Linked DNA regions of Homo sapiens: region 2 is linked to region 1. The links come from fine-mapping of genetic effects on gene expression. A gene starts in region 1. The other region holds a variant in brackets. All regions are shown on one strand. Distances are between the middles of the regions. Region 1 holds the start of KRT79 (keratin 79). Region 2 has its middle 2.4 kb from the start of KRT3.

What was found. PIP is the estimated chance that this variant, and not a neighbour inherited with it, causes the effect. A credible set is the group of variants that fine-mapping cannot tell apart.
Region 2: its variant is the best candidate, but not a certain one, in a credible set for the expression of KRT79 in whole blood (TOPMed, PIP 0.87).

Annotation. Positions count from the first base shown.
Region 1 is chr12:52,832,092-52,836,475 of GRCh38, reverse strand. KRT79 (keratin 79) reads left to right here and starts at 2,165. Exons shown (of 9, transcript NM_175834.3): 1 at 2,165-2,692. The coding sequence starts at 2,216.
Region 2 is chr12:52,796,306-52,800,689 of GRCh38, reverse strand. No RefSeq gene overlaps it. Among named protein-coding and RNA genes, the nearest start is that of KRT3, 2.4 kb to the right of the region's middle. The variant G/T (reference allele first, on the strand shown) is at 2,537.

The DNA.
Region 1 (4,384 bases):
AAGGTAGAGTGGAGAGTAGGGGCTGGTGGAGGCAAAGTGCCCTCCCAGGCTTCTGTCTGGGCCTGGGCTGTGAACCTGGGTGGGAGGGAGGCTGTCTCCAAGCAGCAAGCCGGGAGCTCCATGAGAGTGTGCCCTGGTCCCTGTGTGCCTGTCACCAGCTCCCAGCACAAAGCGTGGCCCAGAGAGCGTGCTTGGTAAATGTGTGCAAGGGACTGGCGTGAGTGTCGTGTCTGGGGTGAGGTGAGACTTGTGTTTATCGACTGCCTCTCACTCCCACCAGCCTGGCTGCCCTGTGACTCAGAGGGCTGACAACACTTCCTTGCCCAGGGGGCCCACAGCCACATCCTGGAGGCTAGGGCCCACTCATGACTGTTTCCTCCTCCCACGCCACCCAGGGAGAGATAAGGGAGGCTGAGAAAGTGATCTCAGCCTGGGGAAAGGAGACGAAGGTCAGTGGGAAGGGGCGGCTTCATCCAGGGATCACTTTTCGAAAGGTCTTCCACGGAGGGCCCTGCTTATAGGCAGAGAAAATGGGGCTCAGAGAAGTTGCGAGTTGCCCCAGGACACACAGCTCAGTGTGGGAGACGTCTCGGCTTGGCTCCCTGAAATGCCCAGTGTCCTAACTCCAAAATCTCCTCTTGGCTATTAAGGGACTAGTTCTGCAAGTGCTCTCACTCCCATTCCTTGTGGGAGCTGGGTTCAACCTCTTCAAGCAACGGGGAGCCACTTACAGCCTCCCAGGGGCCCTAGGAGAAGATCCCACAGCTCCCTCTGGTCCTGGAGCAGGCTGTCTCTTCACTTGCTGGGCTGTGGGGAACATGGGAGGGAGGCCAAGCCTTCTCCGTGGCAGTCCCATGTCCTCTCTGTTGGGATCCTGGGGACACAGCCTGGCTGGTTGTCCTGCTCATCTGATGGGGGTGGGGAGCACAGCGATGCTGTCCTCGCTCCTTTTTTTCAGGCAAGTCTCTGTTCACTTTGAGCCCATCTTCTTGCTGAGAGAAGGGGGTGGGGAGGGCCAGTGTCTAAAGTCACCTCCTCAGTCACCCCTCGGCCCTGACAGTTGACGTCTCTGTCTTTGCTTGGGGCTGTGTTTGGTCCCAGCAGACTGAGGTGAATAGGAAGTGGGCGGCGGGGACCATATGAGGTGATTTAAGGAGCTCCCCTGGCCCCTCTGAATCAGAAACATGGGCTCCTGCATGTGGGGCAGGGGAAGATGGGAGTGACGGGGCTGCTGCGTGGGCCTCCTGGGGCTTTTTTGGAACACCTGCTTTTTGGAGCTGTGCCTGTCTCCACCCAGGGTGGTCTGTGTCCTTGACCCACCTCCAGCTCCCTCCAAAGTGGCTGAACCTTTCTGTGGGGACTCTGCTGTGGGGTAGAGGCTCAGGGATCTCAGGTATTGGTTAAATCCCCTGCCCTCTCTTCAGCCTCCATAAGAATGTCCTTTGCTCCCAGGCTTCTGGGCCCTGCCTGAGGACCCCAGGCCTTTTCTACCTCCTGATCAAGGGCCTGGGCCCCACGATTGGGCAGGGATCCTCTTTCTGTCCTTGAATTCACTTTGCCAGCATAGGCTCACTTCCCAGAAGGCTCTGCCACTGTACGGCAGAGGCACAGGCTATCCCCACTCTCGCCCTGTCACCTGTGTCACACACCCTGGACCTGGGAGGAGTGGTGGGCCGTTGGCTGGGGGTGGGATGGGAGCAGGCCTGGATGCTCTCTCTGGCAGCCCATTGCCCAATGCTCCTTCTCCTACCACCTGTACAGCCCCAGGCCCTGCAGCCTTGGCTTACAACAGGGGCCTGGGACAAACCCCGTAGAACAGAGCCCTATTGACAGTGGCCTCTGGGGCTGGGTGGGAGGACAGCAAGCCAGCCACTGGGTGGTGGGGGTGGCCATGGGAGCCCGTATCATCCTGTGCCAACCGAGGAGAGCCTGGGGGCAGGGGGAGAAGGTGGCATCCTGCCCCAGACAGTCTCGGCTCAGCCCCAGCTCTGGAGCACAGGTGATAACCGGGAGGGCCCCTCCCTCCTGCTTGGGGAGAGGGCACTCCCCGTGGCCCTAAGGACCCCTCCCTCTCCCCTTGGGGCGATGGGGCAGGAGTGTCTGTGGAGCTGGGGAGCCGGCCCAGTTGGGAAAAGATAAAAAGCCCACAGTGGCCCAGCAGCTCACGGCACTCCCTTCCTGCCCTCTCATCCTGCCCTCCGGCCCCTCTGCAGCTATGAGGTCCTCCGTCTCTCGGCAAACATACTCCACAAAAGGGGGCTTCAGCTCCAACTCTGCCAGCGGAGGGAGTGGGTCCCAGGCCCGCACCAGCTTCAGCTCAGTGACGGTGTCTCGGAGCAGTGGCAGTGGTGGCGGGGCCCACTGTGGCCCCGGCACAGGTGGCTTTGGCAGCCGAAGCCTCTATAACTTGGGGGGCCACAAGAGTATCTCTGTCAGTGTGGCCGGAGGGGCCTTGTTGGGGCGGGCTCTGGGGGGCTTTGGCTTTGGCAGCAGGGCATTTATGGGACAGGGGGCTGGCAGGCAGACGTTTGGGCCTGCTTGTCCTCCTGGGGGGATCCAGGAGGTCACTGTCAACCAGAGCCTGCTGACCCCCCTCCATGTGGAGATTGACCCCGAGATCCAGCGAGTGCGCACTCAGGAGCGGGAGCAGATCAAGACCCTCAACAACAAGTTCGCCTCCTTCATCGACAAGGTGGGCCAAGCAGGAAGGAGGAAGGGAGCTCTTGGGGAAGAAGCGGGACCTCTAATAGAGGGTGGGCTGGGCCAGGGCTGCTGTAGCCCACTTGTACTAGGGTGGTGGTTGATAGAGCTCTGGAGCTCTCCCGGTCTGAGCCTGGGATGCCGAGACGTGGGTGGCTGGAGGCGGCCTTCAGGTCTTCACCGTGCCTGTGCGGGGGGAGTCTCCAGTCTACTCATGAGTCCGGTTTGCCAAGTCCACCTTGCCCGTGTTGAAGCCTGTCCTACCACCATGATTAATACGATTGATTGCACAGTAGCCTTACCTCATCATCAAAAAATGGATTGTCCTCATAGCTCCTCTTAGTGGGGTGGCCTGCATTGCCTTTTGTCATTTTACAGCTGGGGAAACAATGCTCAGGAGTTGAAAGAGTTGTTCAAGGCTAAGAGCATGGAGCCCTGTTTGTTCCATTCTTTCAGGCTTGGAGGAGGCTTAAGGGCAAGATGTGATCAAAACACAGTTGTGTGTGGGTGGGGTCCTAGGGGTAGGCTCCCTTCCGCTTCTCCTTTTTTTACACTCTGAGTGAAGAAGCTCAATTTGGGGTGGACAATGAGGAGGGTGGTCACCAGGTCACCAAGCTCTGGGAATGTGGAATTTGACCTGTTGCCCATAGGCATGCCCTGAACCTTGCCCTTGCCTCCAGATGGATGGGAGCAACACTTGTGCTGGGATTTCCTGGTCTGTTTCGCTGGCATTGTCCACCTCGATCCTGAGCCAAGGCAGCGGGTCATGATGGGGAAGGTCTGGCAGACAAATGTACCTTGGTTCAGTGATTTGTGTGTTTCCGAAGAACATGCACATCCCTTTTCTCCTGAGGTACCCACAGTGCTTCTATGAAGACTCAGAAATGGTGATATTGTGCCCATTTTTGAGATGAGAAAATTGAGGTCTAGAGAGCTCAAGTGATTTGCCCAGGATGATACAAGGAGTTGGAGGCAGAGGCGGGACTGGGACCCAGGCCCCTGGACTCTGTGGTTCTTGGCACTAAGAGTTGTTACTGCTCACAATAGGCACACCTGCTGCATGATGCTCCCAGGGCATGTGACTGAGGCCCAGGTAGTGTGGAGATGGGACCTGGAGATATTGGATGACAGAATATGAAGCAAGCCGTCTTGCCTGCCTCCTCACCCTCTCCCCTAGTGACTTTTGGTTTTCCTGTGGGACTGTCCCAGAGGCCAAACAAGCCAAAACCTTTCTCAGGATTGCAGAATCACAGCTTGGGAGCTGGAGGTCTGAGAGATTGTCTTGGAACCCCAGCTGGGCCAAGAACTCTCGGGGGTCCTGTTAAACCCACACCGTAAGCCTCCTTCTGAGTCTATAGAGGAAGGGCTCAGACATTGGTACTTTAAAAAAAGTTTTTTTTGGGAAAAAATGTTGAATTTACAGAAAAGTTGCAAGAATAGTACAACATACTCCTGTATACTCTTTCACCCAGTTCACCAATTTTCTTAATTTATTATTATTATTTTTTGAGACAGGGTCTTGCTCTGTTTCCCAGACTGGAGTGCAGTGGTACAGTCATAGCTCACTGCAGCCTCCATCTCTTGGGCTCAAGTGATCCTCCCACTTCAGCCTCCTGAGTAGCTGGGACTACTGGTGCATGCCACTACACCTGGCTAATTGTCTTGATTTTTAGTGGAGACAGTC
Region 2 (4,384 bases), 36 kb after region 1:
GGGCATGGTGGTGCATGCCAGTGTCCCAGCTACTTGGGAGGCTGAGGTGGGAGGATGGCTTGAGCCTGGGAGGTTGAGGTTGCAGTGAGCTGAGATTGCACCACTGCACTCCAGCCTCAGCAACAGAGTGAGGGGCTCTCTCTCTCTCTCTCAAAACAAAAACAAAAAAACAAAAACAACCCCCTGCCCCCACCACCAACAAACCCATGCCTTACCATTCCTCCTCCCCAGGCAGGATTGATGGAAGTCAAGAGCTAAAGAAGGGAACAGAATCTTAGCTTGCATTGAAAGAAGCACAGTGCCCCCATCACAGACAGGAAGGGGCTTCTTATTAGTTCTGGTGCACATGAAGCCACCTTAAGTATCCTATCTTAGCAAGGCACTGTAGTTTTAAGAGGTCCATTAACATATTAAAGTGGGTGCAGAGAAGATTCCCGGAAACCATCTGTACTGAGGACTGGGAGAAACAACTGGGTCTATCTAACTGGGAGGTTGGTGTCTGTGAATTCCACAGTATTTTCTAATATTGGAAGGGTTGTGATACAGAAACCAGGGGAGTGTGTGTGTTTTACTATGGAAGGCCAGGCAAGAGCAAATTCATCGCAACTCAGTTCCCATCTGCTGAAGGCCTGCCAGGGCCACAGGCTGATGGACACAAAGGCAGGGAAGACAGGTGGTAACAGTGCTCAGTGGGGAATCTCAGCTGGGGGCAGGTGTCCAGCCGTGGAAGGGGCAGGACCTTGAGACCTGAGGCTGAGAGGCCCCAGTTAGGGTTGCTGTTGTGTCAGGACTGCAAGGATTCTGAGAATGCACATGGATGCAAGTGTCTCTCGACTGAGTGAATAATGTGTCTTTTTATGTATATGTATTACCACTTTCAAATGTATATGACTATGAACTGCACTTTTATTTAAAAGTGTTGCTAAATTCATAGTAAAAAATGTATATTCTCAAAGGATACTGGAAGTATGAGTTCTGACATGTGTGAAGGTCAATGTAATTTTTTGTGTGTTAAAAGGGGCCTTCACAAGCAGAGAGGTATGGGTGCCATGCCATGACGGACAGGTGACTGGGCCTCCTGCTGCTGACCACAACTTCACTGATCCTTTAAGAGGAGTTAGGCTCCCATGAAATGGAGTGGAAGGCACGAAAGCTAGATCCTTGAAGACCTTCCTTGGGTCAGGGTGGGGTCTTGCTGGCCTGGGCAAGTTAGGAGATTTGATGAATCGCCTTCCATGGGGATCCTGAAGAGTAGGAGTGGCCAGGTGAATTCTGCCTCGAGGTAGAGGAGTGGACTGGAGAGCCTCCTGGCCGTAGCACCCTATGAGTCTCGATTTTACACATTGCAATCCAGTGACTCACTCTTTTCTCCAGGGAGTAAACACTTAGGGCGCTTAGTTAATAAACTTCAGATAATTCAAGTGTTGGGGATGACTGTAAACCAACTCTGTTTTCTCAAAGTGTTTATTAGGCCCTACAAGTTTAGAGGGATGGGCCCAACCAATAAGAATTTCAACTCACTGATTATCTCCTCCCCTTCCACCACTTCCTTCACTCACAGCTCTGATCAGAATTGACAATCTAGTCCCACGAATGTATTCCCCAATCTTTGTTTTGCTCCCTGTCCTCTCAAAGGTCAAGCCATGTCTTCTCTGCTATCCCAACCCCAAGAGTAAGTATAGATTATGCCCTTCTTCCTTTTTCTTCCACCATCTGCTGGGGAGGTCCCCGACCCAGGACTAGCTGATGACAGCAGTGGTTGTGATGTTGCTTCTCAAAGATTCTTCTCCAAGATAATTCCCTCTAAAGGAATGACAAGCATGGCTCAGAATCAGTGGGCTCTGGCAATGACTAAGATCTCCCCCCATTGGGGCACTAAGTACCCTGAATCACTATGGGTTTAGGAATTCCTAGAGACTCATTGCCCTGGACTCTAGACCCCACACCAGACCAAGCAGCAGCCTCATTTCTGTCTGGCATAAAGGCAGGTCCTCCATCCTGCTCTCTTAGATATTATAAGGAAAAATATGGTCTAATTTTTGTGATATGTTTCCTTTTTTCTTTTTCTTTTGTTGAGAAGGGTCTTGTTCTGTTGTCCAGGCTGGAGTGCCATGGTGCAATCATAGCTCAGTGCAGCCTTGACCTCCCAGGATCAAGTGATCCTCCGACCTTAGCCTCCCAAGCACCTGGGTCTACAGGCACATGACACCACACCCGGCTAATCTTTGTATTTTTTTCATAGAGATGGTGTTTTGCCATGTTTCCAAGGCTGGTCTGAAACTCCTGGGCTCAAGCAATCTGCCCACCTCAGCCTTGCAAAGTATTGGGGTTACAGGCGTGAGCCACCACATTTGGCCTTGTGATATGTTTCTTAAAACACTGGCAGATATTTCATTCATCTAGCTATGTTCCTGTGAGATCTAGAGGGTCAGAGATGATTGATCATCTTTTATGGTTAATGATGCTGAAATGCAGAGAATTTAAATAGCTTTGGTCATGCTTAGTCATGGGGAGGATCTGGTCTAGCCCTGGGTTT[G/T]GTTCATTGCCTTTGAGGGAGCAAAGAGGAGAGGAGCCTGTGTGGCCACACTCTAGGCCTGGGCTAACTTCACAGTCCATGGGCAGAACTTGCAGAAAATTAGGGATATAAGTCAGAGATGCTGGAGAGGGGATCCCAGCAATGAACGGGGCAGATTGTGTGACCTCAAATGTCCAGTCAACTTCAACTTGATTCTGTAATTGATTGATTCTTGATTGATTAGTTCTTGATTCTGTGATTCTACATTTTTTTCCCCTGAGGAGGTGACACTCATTTTGCATGTAAATTTTTCTAAATCTGAACACCAAATTTGAGAAGTCTGGATTCCTCACATTGAAATAATCTCAATTAGCTTGTGCTACCTCATGCAATGGGAGTTGAACTAGCTTTCAACCAGTTTTATCTGGTTGTAATCCAGTATAAGGGCTTAACCATTAGTCATTAATAATTAATTGATGGACTAATTCATTTTTTCAACAAACCAAACTTTATGGCACTTACTATTGGCAAAGCACTGTGCTTTGGTTCAAGGCACCCAGTATATTAACAAGACTGGAAACTCCTGGAGAGCTTATGGTTTTATCCTGGGGAGGAGCTAGGATGTTGCACAGCCTGGCAGGTAACACATGGGAGAGATAAGGATAAAATGGAAGAACCAGGCCACTGAAGAAAATTGTACTTCCTTTGCACTTGGGCCACTCCCAGCCCTACCCAGTGGGTGTTGAAGAAGTCTCTATCCTTTCCCCCAATTCTAAGGAGGCTCCTGCCAGGGCCATACAGACCACACCCTTAGAAGGGCCCAATGTGCAGCAGACAGAACAAAAAAGGCCTGTCCTGGAGAGATAAGCAGCTAACTTGGCCAGCTCCAGAGTGTGCAGGATGGCTTTCTTTTGGACAAACCAAGCCCAGTCATAAGCCTCTGAACAACCCCAGACAGGGAGAGTTTCAGGCTTTCGGAGTCAGACATATTCCATAGTGCTGCCGGCTCTGCCAGATCTGGCTTTCTGGGGTTTGTGAGGGGGCATGGGCGACTCTCAGGAGCACATCTCTCAAACAGAAAATGGTCCCACAGGGGCCCTGTGTGTCTTGTCCATGACTGGGTCTCCAGAGTTTTGCAAAGGGCCTGGCACACATTTGGCAGTCTGTAAATATTTGCTGAATTTGTTGTTGACTTGACATTTGAATTTCTTGTTCCCTAGGCCTTAAGCTAAAACCAGAGAAAGGCCAAAATGTGGGGAGCAAGAAAGGAAGCCATAGATAAACCCCAAGATGTGTAATAGTGTATAATTTCTCTGGGAAGTTTTAAAGAGAAACAAACATTAGGCATGTTGGATTTTGCCAGTGTCTGCTCAACATACATAGGTGTTAACTTGACTTTTTCTCCAAAGATAGTCATAAACCAAAAGGTCACTACCTCCTGAACTAAAGCTTGGGGTACAGGGAGAACCCAGGAGGCAGATTTGTGATAGTTCTGGGCTTTTTTCCAAGAAGGGAGAAGGAGAGGTCAGCGCTTCATCCCAAAGGCCAGCGTAGAGCTGGGCACATACTGTGCACTCAGTCATTGTGGAGAGACCTGCATCACTCCTTCCATTAAGATACTTTCCCAGAGCTGTGAGTGGGCTCCACTGTCTCCACTACTCAGAGAAGCAGAACCTCCCCACACCTCCTCCACTCTATCCTCTCCAGAGCTGGGCACCGCTCTGCAGGGCCCAGGTGCAGCTAATAGGCAGAGGGATGGCTGCTGAGCACCTGATGCAGGTGAGCGTGCCTCCTGGGTCCTGTCAGACAGAGCTAGGAGGAGGCCATGCCCAAACATGGGGCAACACCAGGCACCACCCCCTCACCAGG